Linked DNA regions of Homo sapiens: region 2 is linked to region 1. Evidence: fine-mapped expression QTL. Tissue or cell type: aorta. Region 1 holds a variant in brackets; the other region holds the start of a gene. All regions are shown on one strand. Distances are from middle to middle.

The links. PIP is the estimated chance that this variant, and not a neighbour inherited with it, causes the effect.
Region 2: it holds the start of DEGS1, and the variant in region 1 is fine-mapped to the expression of DEGS1 in aorta (GTEx, PIP above 0.99).

The regions. Positions count from the first base shown.
Region 1 is chr1:223,227,786-223,235,890 of GRCh38, reverse strand. It overlaps SUSD4 (sushi domain containing 4), which reads left to right. Exons shown (of 9, transcript NM_017982.4): 6 at 6,503-6,694. Among named protein-coding and RNA genes, the nearest start is that of TLR5, 89 kb to the right of the region's middle. The variant G/C (reference allele first, on the strand shown) is at 4,156.
Region 2 is chr1:224,179,856-224,187,950 of GRCh38, reverse strand. It overlaps DEGS1 (delta 4-desaturase, sphingolipid 1), which reads right to left and starts at 4,711. Exons shown (of 3, transcript NM_003676.4): 1 at 4,533-4,711. The coding sequence starts at 4,614. RefSeq lists enhancers at 1,238-1,787, 2,339-2,398, 3,872-4,701, 5,036-5,125, 4,702-5,532 and 1 more and silencers at 2,370-2,664, 3,966-4,045, 4,206-4,585, 4,686-4,885.

The sequences.
Region 1 (8,105 bases):
TCCTTCTCCTTGGTATTTACCCAAAGAAACTGAAAACTTATGTCCACACCAAAACCTGCACACAAATGTTATAGCAGATTTATTCATAATTGCCAAAACTTAGAAGCAACCAAGATGTCCTTCAGTAGGTGAATGGATAAATAAACTATGGTACATCCAGACAATGGAATATTATTTAACACTAAAAATAAATTAACCTTCAAACCATGAAAAGATATGAAGAAACTTCAAATGCATATTACTAAATGAAAGATACCAATCTCAAAGGGCTATATACTGTCCTATTCCAACTATATGACATTTTGGAAAAGGCAAAACTATGACGACAGCAAAACGATCAGTGATTGTTGGGGGTTTGGGGGTGGGTGGGGCAATGAACAGGCAGAGCACAGAGGATTTGGGGGGGCAATGAAACTACCCTGCATGATAACTTGAATGGTGGATACATGTCACTACACATTTATCCAAACCCATAGAATGTACAACACCAAGAGTGAACCCTAATGTAAACTCGACTCTGAGTGATAATGATGTATCAATGTAGGTTCATCAGCAGTAACAAATGCACCACTCTGGTGGGGATGTGAATAATGGGGGAGGCTGTGCATGCGTGGGAGCAGGGAGTATACGGGAACTTCCTGTACCTTCTGCTCAATATTGCTGTGAACCTAAAACTGCTCTTAAAAATAAAGTCTTTATTTTTTTTAGAAAGAAAAGGGCTTTAGGTTTTTTTTTTCAATCAAGAGAAATAGTCTTCTTATGTTTTCATATTTACACTTCTTTTTTTCAGGAGGAAGACCTGAACATCTTTTCCCTGTCCTTTATTTCCCACACATCAGGTTGGCAGCTGCTGTGCTTTATTTTTGCCCTGTGTTAAAGTCCTCTCCCACCCCAGCACCTACCTGTTCCTCAACTAGCACCACCACATCTCTGTTCTAAATGTTGTTCTCCTGCAATAAAGGACGTTTGAATTAAACATTCCATTTTTATCCTATACTGTATTTCACCATGATCTGCACACCTGTTAGTGCATCAAGGGAAGAACCAACTGGCATTGTTTTGAAGGTGTTAGAAACGTTGGCCTCTTTATTTTAGTGTGTATCTCAGAGGTGGGACTGGCAAAGCTCTATTTCACGTCACTAAGACATCCCTAAAATGGACACAAATCCTGGTGTGTGGTGTCCGTCGGGTGAAGCCATGAGGCTATGATAAAACTATTATCATGTCTCACCTTTTTTCCCCCACTGAAAAATGAGACCAGACACAGCATGAATATTGCAGCTCATTGCCAACAGGAGAGAAGTGGACAGGGAACCACCTCTGGTTTATTGTGAAAACTTTGACATTTCCATTCACTCAAATAGCAAATGTTTATCAAGAATCATGCTGGATGCTACAGGAGTTAGAAAAACTCTAGAGACACGGCCCCTGCTCTCAAAGAGTTTATGAATCTGTACAAGTATTAGGCATGTAAAATGCACAAAGTGCCCAGGAACTCCAAGATCACTGCCTGTGCACTCAGGGAAGGCTTCCCAAAGAGGCTGGTGTTTGTGTTGGAATTAAATCTGCATAGGAGGAAATAGCCAGAGGGAGGGTGAGGAAAAGACACTAAATTGAAAGGAGGCTGGAAAATGAGGGAAGGCTTATTTGGGGAAATTGCAGTCTTATAGCAGCCCCATCCAGCCCAGCTCAGGCCATTCTTGGCCAACACAGGGAAGACTTCAGGTCCCATGCCTCAGCACCCTATCCTTTGGTCCCGCCTCCCCACATGTAGCCCACCTCTGGGAAGTTCCACAAGAGACTAAGTATGGTAAAAACTGGACTCTGCTGCCTTTTGGGTAGGTAGGAATTTTCCAGCTAGTCTGAAAAGAGCCGTAACCCTCTGTCATGAAACAAGGAACAGAGACTTCACACCTCGGGGACAGGAATCATCCGTTTCTGGCTGAGTGTCAGCAGAGCCTTTCTTGGATTCTGCCTATAACCACTGAATGTCCAGACTCCCAAGCCTCACAAAAGCCCTGTTGCTAATAATGTCTAAAGTAAGAAACATTAAGAAAAATGGAGTTGCAGAAGGATCTTTGTTCATGCCACCCACAGGTTTTCCCTGGGTGTGTTTCCCTTAGAACTAGCAACTGACGGGATATGAGTCACAGGCTGAGCCTAAAGGAGTTCTAAGATAAGAACAGAAAAAAGTGCCATAGCCCGGTCCACTTTTACTCACCGGAATTTCTAGGAACACACAGGTTATTTCAAACGCCAACCATGTGGCCGTTGTTCATGGGGCTGTTTGCCATGTGTCTGAGGCCTCTGGGTGTGGGAGTGTGTCCATCCGTCTGTCTGTCTGTCTGTGTGGAACTGTCTGTCTGTTAGGGAAGGTGTAGAGAGGAGACAGTAGCAGTACTCAGTCGAGCCTCATAGTGAGAGGCAGTGTTGGGTGAGAGGTGGAAGTCCCCTAAGCCATGGGTATTTTTATATTGGGATTTTTAAATAAGCCTCCCTAAGTTTATAATTAATAATACTTTTGTTGTTGTTTCCTTCCAAGTTAAAAGAAACGCTCCCACCCCCTACCCTCACCACACCACATGGGGTTTCCTTTACAGCAAAGCTAATGGTCTGCCAGGTGCAATCATTACAAACACTACAAGGTGTGAAGATAATTGTTTCTACTTAAGGGGAAAATGCATCTCCATTACCAGCCGATTATGACAGTCTCAGAGTTAAGGCCTCTACAATGGATGGTTTTTATCTGGCCTCTGAGAAAATGTGGTGATGAGATGTGTTCACATTCTCTGAATGTTTGGGGCTTCCCTGGTGCAATCCCAGGTATCCTAATTGCATAAGGAGCCTGGTAGTGCCCCAGTACGGGAAGGGCAGCATGGGAACCCCAGCAAGTTTGGACACCAGTGATACTAATAGCTATTATTTATTAAGTGCCTACTGTGTCCCTGACCTTTGTGTTATGCAGTTTTCATACATCTTCAAATCCTCTCAACAACTGGAGGAGTTGGGAATTGTTTCACTCATTAGACAGATGGGAAAGCTAAGACCCTGAGAAGTCAAACAAGCTGCCTAACACCCTGAAGCTCATCAGTGGTAGAGCTGAGGTTTGAACACAAATTTGGGTAACTCCACAGCCCACGGCCCTATATGCCACTCCGTGCTGCCTGCCTTTGCTCATTAAATGATTGATTAAATGGTTGATCTGTATGGTACAGAAATTCTTGAGCACACCATGGGACCATTTGCCTCGGGGTGAATGCAATGATTTGAACAGTCGTTCATCTTTCAGGCCCAGTGAGAAAAAAATGCTGCTGATAACAAACTTGCATACATTTATGTGGGCTCTTTCATGACATTTTCTGTGCTTTGAAAAGAGTTTTGGTAATTTTCTAATCCTACAGTGGCCCTCAGGGGCTTGTTTAGAGAGCCTTTGAGGAGAAGTGCCTTCCTGCTCTGTGTACCTCTTTTTCTCTTTCATAAAAATGTTAGATATTTAAGGTGTACAACATGATGTTTTGAGATACATCTACACAGTGAAATGACTATTACAGTCAAGTAAGTTAACATAATCCATTTCCTGAAATCTACTCTCTTAGTGAATTTCCAGTGTATAATACAGTATTATTAACTGGAGTCTGGATACTATACATCAGAGCTCTGGGCTTCGTCCTATGGAACTGCACCCTTTTACCCTTTGACCTACATCTTCTGATTCCCTCTACCTCCCCAACCCTGGTAACCACTGTTCTGCTCCCTGGTTTTATGTATTCAACTTCTTTAGATTTCACATATAAGTGAAATCATGCAGTATCTTGTCTTTCTGTGCCTGGTTTATTTCACTTAGCAGAACGTCCTCCACGTTTCTCCATTGTGTCCTAAATGGCAGGATTTCCTTCCTTTTTAAGGCTGAATAATATTCTGTGGTGTATATTGCCTATATTTTCTTTATCCATTCATCTGTCAATGGACACTTGCCATACCCTTGACCACAGAAAGGGGCTCCTGTCCCAGAGAAGATGCCGGCCTCCTGAGCGTACAACAGCGCTGGGGAATGCTCCAGCAGTGCAGGGAAGGGGGCCCCCAGGCAGTCCCGGGGCCACTGGAGACCCCTTCCTTGTGGGAAGAACCAGGAATTGAGTAGAGGAGAAGCAGCAC[G/C]GAGGAGGGCCTCCAAGGAGAGAAGAGCCCTTACGGCCACATCCCTGGATCTCCCAGGACCAGTTCAACAACGTGGCCAGTGCCTTTTTCTCTCTCCCTGTTCCTCATCAGCTGTCCTTCCCTTTGCTTCCTTCTGCTTTATTTCCTGGAGATGCTCCCAGAGCACCCTGGTGGTAGCAAACTTGAAAAGAGCCCCTGTTTGTGGAAATGCAAGGGGTTGTGTGACTGCATTTGCCAGCCCAGGAGAGACCCTGAGGCAGAGCAGCAGAAAGCTCCTGGGCCTCAGAGTCAGAGCTCAAAGCCTGTCTCTGCCAGTGTCCACCTGTGGGATGCTCACAGCAGCCACCTGACAGCCACCATTTACTGAGCACACCTGGGCCTGCCAGCCTCAGATCTGCCCTGGACCTTCCCTGCACTGCACCAGATCTAGACAGGCTGTCCACCGCAGACCCTGTTTCCCAGACCCCCTTGTCACCTGGCTCCCCACTGGCTTTGTCCAGAGGGAGCCTGGAGGGTGGGCAGGTGGAGAACCAGGCTACTTCTCCCTCACTGTTCCTGCCCTGGGGACATCTCCAGCGGGGTCTGAGTTTCCCCGGGCTCCAGTTCCCGCGGGATAGACCTCCATGGTTCCACCTTCCACTAGGGACCCCAGCAACGAGACCCCTTCATCCCACCAGCCCAGGAGCGGTAGTGGCTTCCTGCTCTCACTAATCTTGGGGTGTTCCTGCTGGCTTCTCCACTTTGCCATCACCTCGTTAAATTCCATCTCTTTAGATACTCAAGTCCTGGTTTTCCCTGAATAATCACAGTTTGTCAGCTCTGAACTAAGCCCTCACCAGCATTTCTCGAGATAGCCCTCAGAGACTCTTGTTGTACAGCTGAGGACCCTGAAGCTCAAAGATGCACAGGGATTGGTTTAGGGTGACTCGGCTGGTGAGTAGTTCAGCCGGAATTCAGACCTAGGCCTGTCTAGAGCATACCTGGGCTTCTACTCACTCCTCTAGTTGCTTCTGTGAGTTTCCGTTTCCCCTTCTCTGAAAGAACCAACAAGATCTACACTACAGTGTTGTTTGAAGGACTAGAGAGTGCCTGTAGTGTGCCTCCAACCCTGCTTCACACGCATCGGGACACCTCCGGCAGGGTGGCCTGCTCTGCAGGGAGGGCCATCTTGTTTTCCAAGTGGCACCCACTGCTGCCAGTGAGTAGTTTCAGTGGCCAGTGTGGAGAGGGCACCTCTTCTGGCCTGTATGGTGGGCAGTGCCTGTTCTGCACTGGCCAGGGTGTTTGGTTACCCCAAGGGAGGGAATCAAAAGTTAACTCTTTTTCGTTTAGGTTTTTTTTTTTTTGGTCAGAATTCTTACTGGTTTCTGTGAGTGTGGGTTTGAAGTTGGCACTGATAGAATCTGTGGTTTGACTGTTTCTTGAAGAATGTTTAAGCAGCAGCACTGTTTATTTCTGAGTCCTCATCCAAGAATGAGCTCCTTGTGGCATAAAAAGCACCGAACTCCCACTGAAGCCGTCTTTGTGGTGACAGAGATGGAACCGTCCTTACCTCGCAACCTAGAATGCAGTACCAAGATACTAAAGACACTAAAAACAACTTTTTCTTCCCCTAACATGATGGGATATTCGAGTCAGAACCCTAAGGCGTCCTCCTAGGGTAGAATAAGCTTCCATTTGACAGAGGAGAAAAATCAAGGCTCAAAGAGGTTAAGGGATCTGCTTAAGGTCACACAGTGTGGTGTTGGTGGCAGAACCAAGCCTCATGCCCAAGGCACCTAACTCTGGTTGCCCTGGAGGCTGTGCCCTGGCTCTGCAAGCAGAGCTAGAAGAACTGCTCCATGTTCGTCATTGGCTAAGCCTCAGCAGAGCTGTAGGGGATCAGGTTAGGGACACTGCCCTGTGATTTTAATAGACCCAAATTACTACTGTGGTCACAGAAACAGGCTTGGGATAACTATGCCTTTCAGTAAAGATTTTGTACAGAAATATGTTAATTTTATTTACTAGGTTGTCTGGCACATAATAGCATGCATTATTAATACAGTAGCTTAATACTCTCTATTAAATAGGCATACTCTTTGCATTGTAAAACGAACCTCTCTTTTACGATGTACTTCACAATGCCATGTCACAACGGCACGTGCTCAGAATATTACAGCAGGCTTCCATTCCGCCTTCCATGAAATACTAAAAAAGAGACCATCTCTAATGCAACTCAGTAGCCTGGTGATTAATCCATAAGCACATTTTTAACTGAGTTCTCCTAGGCCATTCTTCGTCTTAGGGGCTTCAGACAAAGGTGAGCTTGTGGTTCTGAAACTTTTATTCTCCCCTACTGCCCAAGTCTGTCCACTACCTCCAATGGTGAGTCACGGAGATTTCGTCTGCCACCCGCGGCCTTGTGAGCGCTACAACCACGGAACTGTGGTGGAGTTTTACTGCGATCCTGGCTACAGCCTCACCAGCGACTACAAGTACATCACCTGCCAGTATGGAGAGTGGTTTCCTTCTTATCAAGTCTACTGCATCAAATCAGGTAAGACTGAAGGCCTCACCCTTGGAGGAGATGGACCCTCCTTGGACCATCTGCACATAGTGGGTGGTGGTTATGTACCAAGCTGTATCTCTCCTCCCCCACCCAGTGTCAGGAACAGGATATCGAAACATATCATTGCGGGTCGATGGGGCTGCTGTTGGGCTCTGTGCCAGATGCTTGTAGGTCCTGTTCAGACAGTCAAGAGTATTAACTGTCTGCTGGAGGTCCTTCCATGGATGCTAGGGGCCTAGGGACCCTATTCAGAGGGTCAGGAGTATTAACCTGTCCATTCCCAGGTTAAAAAGCTGACCATCTAAACAGGGTCCCTAGACCCCTAGCATCCATGGAAAGACCTCCAGCCTCCACACTCTTTTTTCTCCCAGCCTTGTCCTTTTCCACTGGTAAGGACACAGGCCTGTGGGTGTGACCAGAATTAGATGCATTGCCCTGGACCCAAGCAACGCATAACTTTACCTTTCTCTTCCACTCAAGGACACATATCAGAATACAGATGATACTGTGGGTAACACCTGCTCTCACTTGTAAAACTATAGGCCATTTGCAAGCTTCAGGGCTTCATAGTTAAAAGCAAATGACTTAATTGCAAACCACCTTCCCCACTGGCCTCAGTGCACCTGGGTAGTGACCACAGGATAGAGACTGGGGCACCAGCACACACCCACTGTCTCCTTCCCACTCTCTCCAGCCCTTTCCAGGCTGGGGATGCTGCCCTGAGCAGTGCTGATGACTGCATGCCTTTCCCCTGGACACAAGGAAGCACTTGTTAATGCCAGGTCTCTGGAGGCGCACACATGATCCTGTGAGCCAGCCGGGGGAGAAGTGCAAAGAGAGTGTCTAAGAGGGTGGTCATGACAAGGCAGAGAGACATTTAAGAGACAGGGTGGCCTGTGCCCAAAGGATAAGTCTCTTCTGGAAAGGTCTGCTCTTGCTGCCCCTGACCTGGCAGGCAGTTGATGGCTAGAGGTGGTAGGGCATGAGAGCTGTGGAACAGGGGTCCCCTTTACCCTCTGTTTCTTGCTTTACCCAACCCCACAGCATATCCCAGAACATTCACAAAGGGCCCAGCTTCCCACTCCCCCACCCCTTGGTCCATTTCGGAGCAACTTCTCCAGGCAAGAGAGATGCCCACCTCTGTTCTCAAGAGGCAGATGCATTATTTAAGCCTGTGCCAGGCCTGCGCCTGGGACTGGAATGTGAGCATGCAGGTCTGCAACCTGGCAGAGCCCATGCTGGAGACAGGTTTTTAGTGTTGGGTGGATCCTGATGCAATTTACATGAGCTACAGGGGCACATGGTATCTCTGCCGAGCCCTGGGGGTCAGAGGCACCTTGCACGCATCTCTTGTGCCAGATGAATCCAGCAAATGAGCCCACGGGGAACCTCGGCACCT
Region 2 (8,095 bases), 950 kb before region 1:
ATTATGCTAAGTAAAAGCCAATCATAAAAGATCAGGTATTTTATGATTTCATGTATATGAAATGTCCAGAATAAGCAAATCTATAGGCCACAAAGTAGATTAGTGGTTACCTAGGTAGAAGCAGGGGATATGAGGGACTGCTAATGAGTATAGGGTTTCTTTTGGTGATGATGAAATGTTCTAAGGTTATATGGTGGTGACAGCTGCACAACTCTGTGAATATACTAAAAAATACTGAACTGTACACTTTAAATGAATAAATCATGATAGTTGAATTATAATCTCAATAAAGCTATTGGCCAGGTGCTGTGGCTCACACCATTAATCCAGCACTTTGGGAGGCTGAGGCACAAAGACTGCCTGAGGCCCAGTGTTCAAGACCAGCCTGGGCAAACAGATTCTATTTCTACCAAAAATAAAAAAAATTAGCCAGGTGAGGTGGCACAAGCCTGTAGTCCCAGCTACTTAGGATGCTGAAGCGGGAGCATCACTTGAGCCCAAGAATTTATGATCACACCACTGCACTCCAGCCTGGGCAACACAGTGAGACTCTCTCTCAAAAAATAAAACATTAAAAAGCTGTATCATGTTAAAGTATAACAGTGAAGGAACCATTTCTTGTGATTTATTCTTTTTTTTTTTTGAGACGGAGTCTCGCTCTGTTGCCCAGGCTGGAGTGCAATGGTGAGATCTCAGCTCACTGCACCCTCTGCCTCCTGGGTTCAAGCAATTCTCCTGCCTCAGCCTTCCCAGTAGCTGGGATTACAGGCGCCCACCACCACACCCAGCTAATTTTTGTATTTTTAGTAGAGACGGGGTTTCACCATGTTGGCCAGACTGGTCTTGAACTCCTGACCTCAGGTGACCTGTCCACCTCAGCCACCCAAGGGCTGGGATTACAGCCATGAGCCACCCAGCCCAGCTCATCCTCACGAATTTCAAACAGATGCCTTGTAAATGAACTTTTAATGTGAACTCTAAATGTAAACTTAAAGTGTACAATTGTTGGTTGTTCTATCAGGCCCCTTCCCTCCCCCGCCAAAAAGTCAATACTTTCAGAAAGATCTCTTATCATTTGTGTATAATTTAAACAAATCTAAAGATTCTTTCTACAGGTTATTCCATCTCCCACCCTGAAACAGAACATGAGTTAGTATTTACACCTGCATGGAAAACATTGTACACTGTATTTTCATTGAGAAATATGTAGTCCTTCTTTTTTTTTTTTTTTTTTTTTTGAGACGGAGGCTCACTCTGTCGCCCAGGCTGGAGTGCAGTGGCACCATCTCAGCTCACTGCAAGCTCTGCCTCCCGGGTTCACGCCATTCTCCTGCCTCGGCCTCCTGAGTAGTTGGGACTACAGGTGGCTGCCGCCACGCCCGGCTAATTTTTTGTATTTTTAGTAGAGATGGGGTTTCACCGTGTTAGCCAGGATGGTCTCGATCTCCTGACCTCATGATCCGCCCACCTTAGCCTCCTAAAGTGCTGGGATTACAGGCGTGAGCCACCATGCCCGGCCAAGAAATATGTGGTCCTTTTACTTTCCCAGTGAAATGGTTCAGTGATAAGTCTGTGGGGGGAAAAAAGGCTCAGTGTGAGGTAAGTATCAATCAGCACCTTCTCACTTCCTTCATCTCTTTTTCTTGAGACAGTCTCACTCTGTTGCCCAGGCTGGAACGCGGTGGGGCAATCACGGCTCACTGCAGCCTCTACCTCCCCAGCTCAAGCAATCCTCCCACCTCAGCCTTCTGTGTAGCTGGGACCACAGGCACATGCCACCATGTCCCGCTAATTAAATTTTTTTTTTTTTGGTAGAGATGGGGTTTTGCCATGTTGCCCAGGTTGGCCTCGAACTCCTGAGTTCAAGTGTTCCTCTCGCCTCAGCCTTCTGAGTAGCGGGACAGGCATGCACGCCTAGCTAATTTTTTAATTTCTCGTGCAGATGGGGCTGTTCTGAACTGGCCTCAAGCGATCTTCTTGCCTCAGCTTCTCAAAGTGCTCGGATTACAGGCAAAAAAAAGCCACCACACCCGTCCTGATTTTCAGAATATTAAGTAGCTCAGTTTCAGTATTCCAGAGTTGGTTTTTACACAGGTAGGACGCTAGATTATTCCTATGTAACATGTAGATAAGGCATTGATAAAATATATCATATGTGGCCTGGCAGGGTGGCTCACGCCTGTAATCCCAGGACTTTGGGAGGCCATGGCAGGCGCATCATCTGAGACCAGCCTGGCCAATGTGGCAAAACCCTGTCTCTACTAAAAATAAAAATAGAAAAACTTAGCCAGGTATGGTGGCGGGCGTCTGTAATCCCAGGTACTCGGGAGACTGGGGCAGGCAGAACTGCTTGAACCCAGGAGGGAGAGGTTGCAGTGAGCCGAGACTGGGCCACTGCACTCCAGCCTGGGTGACAGAGTGCGGCTCCGTCTCAAAAAAGTATCATGCTATCTCATATCAAGTATGTGTAAGTGATGTGCCAAACAAATTGCTACTGGCAGGCTGAGGTATGCGGACCACTGGAGCCCAGGCTGCAGTGATCATCATGCCTGTGAACAACCACCGCACTCCAGCTTGGGCAACAAAGCAAGACCCTTTCTCTAATGGAGTGTAGGGGAGGAGGAAGAAGAGGAGGAAGGGAATTCAAGAACCCAAAGTTACCGGGTGCAGTGGCTTACGCCTTTAAAATCCCAGCACTTTGGGAGGCCAAAGCGGACAGATTGCTTGAGCCCAGGAGTTCAAGACCAGCCTGGGCAACACGGAGAAACCCATCTCTACAAAAAATAGAAAAATCAACCAGGCATGGTGGTGTGCGCTTGTGGTCCCAGCTACTTGCTTTTTCTTTTCACTGGGCAAATGAATGTTGAGAAGAAAAACTAAGGAAATACTATATATAAGGAATAATTGCTCATGTTCAACTCACCGTTTCCTCAATTTAAAAAAAGTGTGTGTGTGTGTGTGTGTGTGTGTGTGTGTGTGTAAACGGGGGGCTCTCACTATGTTACTCAGGATGGTCTCAAACTTCTGGGCTGAAGCGATCCTCCCGCCTCAGCCTCCCGAAGTGCTAGGATTACAGGCCTGAGCTACCGTGACCGGTCCCCGTTTCCTCAACAGAGGTTAAAAAGCTCGTGCTCTGGCCGGGCACGGTGGTTCACGCCTGTAATCCCAAAACTTCGGGAGGCCAAGGCGGGCGGATCACCTGAGGTCAGGAGTTCGAGATAAGCCTGGCCAACATGGTGAAACCCCGTCTCTAACTAAAAAAGATACAAACATTAGCCAGGCGTAGTGGTGGGAACCTGTAATCCCAGCTACTCGGGAGGCTGAGACAGAAGAATCGCTTGAACCCAGGAGGCAGAGGTTGCAGCGAGTGGAGATCGCGCCACTGCACTCCAGCATGAGCAACAGAGTGAGACTCAGTCTCAAAAAACAAACAAACAAACAAACAAAAAACAAACACGTGCAGTCTCAAAAAACAAACAAACAAAAAACAAACACGTGCTCTGGAAGAGGCAACCGAATGCGCATTAGAATCCCCCTAGCATTTAGTCACGCGTTCTTATTTCATTTTTTAAAACAGCGATAATACCAACCAAGTAGAATTACCAAGAGGATGAAATTGGGTAATGTTTGTAAAGCATTCCACACAATCCCTAGCATATTAGGAGTAGCCTGGGAGAGATGAGCATTCTCTATGTAACACAGAAGGCCCGAATCCTCTGGAGAGTTAAGGCCTCTCAATTAGCTGTCAGGGGACCAGCAGGCCACGCCACATATTTTCCTTATTTGGCAAGTCTTCCATTTTCAGTCTTTTCATCCACAAAACCGAGATGGATGAAAAATGCCTACGAATCCGCCGTTCTTACGTCCCAGGCTTGTCGTGAGGATCAATGGGACAAGCGGCGTGAACCGACCAGGGCCCATCAAGTCCGAGAAGCCCCGGGGGGCATATGGAGGGACGCCGGCCCCCTTAACGGGCCCAAGGCCGGGACTGCGGCCGCCCCCGCCAGTACTGCCCGCCGGCGCCCGACACCCTGAGCAGGGCTCGCTGGTAGGCCCAAGGATGCCCAGGACCACACCCTGCCTAGCACTCAGGCAGCCCCAAGGCCGGCACCCGCTCACCTCGGCCCGCTCCGGAGGAGAGGGAGTGGTGAGAGGAAAGGGCGCCCACCTGAGGGCACAGGAATCTTCTAGCGAAAAGATCTACTCAAGGCTGGCACAGCCGGGGACACCCTTCGCCCCAACCGGCCGGCGTGGGCCTGGCGGGGACTCCCGCGCTCGGGGACGCGCCTGCGCCTCTTCGCGGAAGGGTCGGAGCTGCGCGGCTCCGAGGACCCGTCCCTCCCCCCGCTCCTCGCCCAGCCTCTCCCGCGCTGACCCGCGGGCTGGCGGCCCGAGCGGCGACGGGACGCGACGGGGAGCAGGCTGCTAACGGGCCTCCGGCGCCCACGACCGCGCAGGGCCCGCGAGGGGAGAGCGCGCCCCGGCGCCGGGAGGCCACGCACGCACATAACGGGGCGCCCGCTGGCCCTCACCCAGGATCTCCCGGCGCCGGTCGGCGTGCGGCTGGTCGGTGTAGACCCACTCGAAGTCTTCCCGCGAGACGCGGCTCCCCATGGCGACAGCGGTGGCTTGCAGACTAGCTGTCGGCTCTCGCTCCCAGCCGGCTGCTCAGAGGTGGCGGCGGCGGCGGCGGCTCCCCGGCTGGTGTGGTGTCGGCCGGCTGTGGCGGAGCGCGGAGGAGACGGAGGCGTGGGCGGAGTCCCGAGGCCCCGCCCCCCCCGGCCCGCCCGCCTGCCTCTCTGGGTGGAGGGCGCGTGGCGCTCCCAGGCCCCCGTGCGGGGCCGGCTCTCAGCGATTCTGGGACGCGGGGTTCTGAGCTTCGGTGACTCGGCCACCATCCAGGATGCCGCGTTCTTGCGAGTGCCCGCCCCTGCGGCCTGCTGCGCCGGAGCCCGGAGAAGATGAAAAAGGAAGGAATGGTCTCAAGTGAGATAAACCTGCCGCCCTAACGCCTCCGCGAGGGGAGCACCGGGCACGGCTACGGTCACACCGAGTCTGGAGGCCCCGGAGCCCTTCTTAAATGGCAGCTGGCCTAAGTTTTGTTTAATTTTTAAAAAGCAAATTAGCCATTGAGTCATATTTCGCTGCCTTCTGGAAATAATACCTCAGGGAAAAAATGCAGAGTGCGTGACAATTAAAAGCTAATCAAGTAAAAAGAAAACACCATTATTAAGAGGGGGTGATGATGTGGGATTTGTTGTTGTGCTTGAATTATTCTAGTGTGACCACTTCTGTTAAGAGATGATTGCTCAACCTTGCATCTACCTGTCGCAGAAGTAATCAACCACAACCTCTTCCTGAAAGAAAGGTTTTGAAACGAAACTAATTTTGTTTCAACATTAGTTACCACGTCTACATCAAAGAGCAACTTAAAGATTACAAAAAGAAGATAACCAAAGCAGGTGTGCCTCCTAGTCAAAGAACATGCTGTGCACGCGCACACGGCACACACACACACACAAATCTGATCGAGCCCCTAGATCTGACTGTTAATTTATAGAAAATAGAAAGGACATTTGGCCGGGTGCGGTGGCTCACGTCTGTAATCCTTGCACTCTGTGAGGCAGAGGCGGGTCCATCACCTGAGGTCGGGAGTTCGAGACCAGCCTGATCAGGATGGTGAAACCCCCGTCTCTACTAAAAATATAAAAAAATTAGCTGGGCGTAGTGGCAGGCGCCTGTAATCCCAGCTACTCAGGAGGCTGAGGCAGGGGAATCGCTCGAACTGGGAGGCAGAGGTTGCAGTGAGCTGAGACGGAGCCACTGCACTCCAGCCTGGGGGACAGACGGAGACTCCCTCTCAAGAAAAAAAAAAGAAAATAGAAAGGACAGAGGAATGTGTTAAACTAGGCCGTGGGGATGAAACTAGCAAGATCCAACTCTGGGAGACTATATGGGACAATGTCTGGGTTCTCTAATAAATGAAACTCAAGGCAAAAAAAGAGAAACCTGTAGATTAAAAGGAGTTTAAAAGACATACCAACCAATTGCAACGTGTTGACCTCATTTAGATTCTGATTGAAATAGTTTAAAAACATTGACATGAAATAATTGAACTCAGATATCAATTGGATATGTGATGATATTAAGGAATTATGAATTTCTTAAGTGTGATAATAGTATTATGGTTATAGTGGGTTTTGTTTTTTTTGAGACAGAGTCCTGCTCTGTTGCCCAGGCTGGAGTGCAGTGGTGGCCTCATGTCTCACTTCAGTCTTGACCTGAGCTTAAGCCATCCTCCCACCCCAGTCTCCCGAGGAGCTGGGATCACAGGCGTGCACCACCATGCTTGGCTACTTTTTTGAATTTTTGATAGAGATGGGGCCTCACCTTGTTGCCCAGGCTGGTCTCAAACGCTTGGGCTCAAGTGATCTCAAAGTATTGGGATCACAGGCATGAGCTACTACATCCGACCCCAGGAGCATTATTAATAAGTCCCTAAGACCCTCTCAGTACATTCACTTCTGAAATAGAGAGGGCCAGCACGGCTGAGACATCTAGCAGAGAAGGCTGTGAGAGCAGAGGGGAGACAGAACAGTGACACCTGGAGTGGAGGCCTGAAGGCTGATCAGAGCCCAGCGAGGGTCATGTCTGCAGGGCATGCTAGCAAATGCGTGGCTGGGTCAGCCTCCAGAGGGTCCCAGTCTCGAAAAAGGAGTGGGATTTGATGATGGATAGATACACAGGTCTGATCATGCAGGAGCTTTTTAGTTGTTAATGAAATGGTGGAGGAAAAAGAAGGTGGGGAGTGTCACCTGGAAAAGGACAGCTTTGTATTTGCCAAGTTTCATCTGGATTGGCAGATGGCACATGAAGCTGATAATTGGACTCAACTCAGGAGGAAGTTTTCAGGTGCTGACAAGTAAATGTATCCCTGCAGTTCAGAACGCAGTTGCTATCACAGGCATGTGTGAACTGGCACACCAGTCCAAAAGGTGTGCGGAGGCTTACGTCTGTAGTCTGAGCACTTTGGGAGGCCGAGGTAGGGGGATCGCTTGAGGGCAGGGGTTCGGGACAAGCCTGGGCAACATGGCAAAAACCCACCTCTATAAAAAATACAAAAATTATGCCGGGTATGGTGGCTCATGCCTGTAATCCCAGCACTTTGGGAGGCCAAGGCGGTCTCCAAGGTCAGGAGATCCAGACCATCCTGGCTAACACGGTGAAACCCCATCTCTACTAAAAATACAAAAAAAATTAGCCAGGCATGGTGGGGGGGGCGCCTGTAGCCCCAGCTACTTGGGGGGCTGAGGAAGGAGAATGGCATGAAACCGGGAGGCGGAGCTTGCAGTGAGCCGAGATCGCACCACTGCACTCCAGACTGGGCGACAGAGCAAGACTCCGTCTCAAAAAAAAAAAAAAAAAATTTAACTGGGCGTGGTGGCCCATGTTTGTGGTCCCACCTATTGCTGAGGCTGAGGTGGGAAGATTGCTTGAGCCCAGGAGGTCGAGGCTTCAATGAGCTGAGAAATGAGCTGAGATTGTGGCACTGCACTCTAGCCTGTGTGACAGAGTGAGGCTTTGTCTCAAAAACATTAAAAAATAAAAGAAAGAAAGAAAAATGCAGAGTTTGAAAAAAAATGTGAATCTGGATATACCATTTTTTTTTTCTGAGATGGAGTTGCGCTCTGTTGCCCAGGCTGGAGTGCAGTGTCAAGATCTTGGCTCACTGCAACCTCTGCCTCCTGGGTTCAAGCGATTCTCCTGCCTCACCCTCCCGAGTAGCTGGGATTACAGGTGTGTGCCACCACGTCCAGCAACTTTTTGTATTTTTACTAGAGACGGGGTTTCACCATGTTGGCCAGGCTGGTCTTGAACTCCTGACCTTAAGTGATCTGCCCTTCTTGGCTTCCCAAAGTGCTGGGATTACAGGCATGAGCACCACACCTGGCTTGGACATTCTTTTTTTTTAAAAAAAGTTACAATTCATTTAATAGCAACTGGTAATCATGAAATTTTCTTATTTTGTTTAAACCCTCTTTAAACAAAAGTCTGCAAATTAGCACTGATCATTTGCAAAAGTCATTACATATAC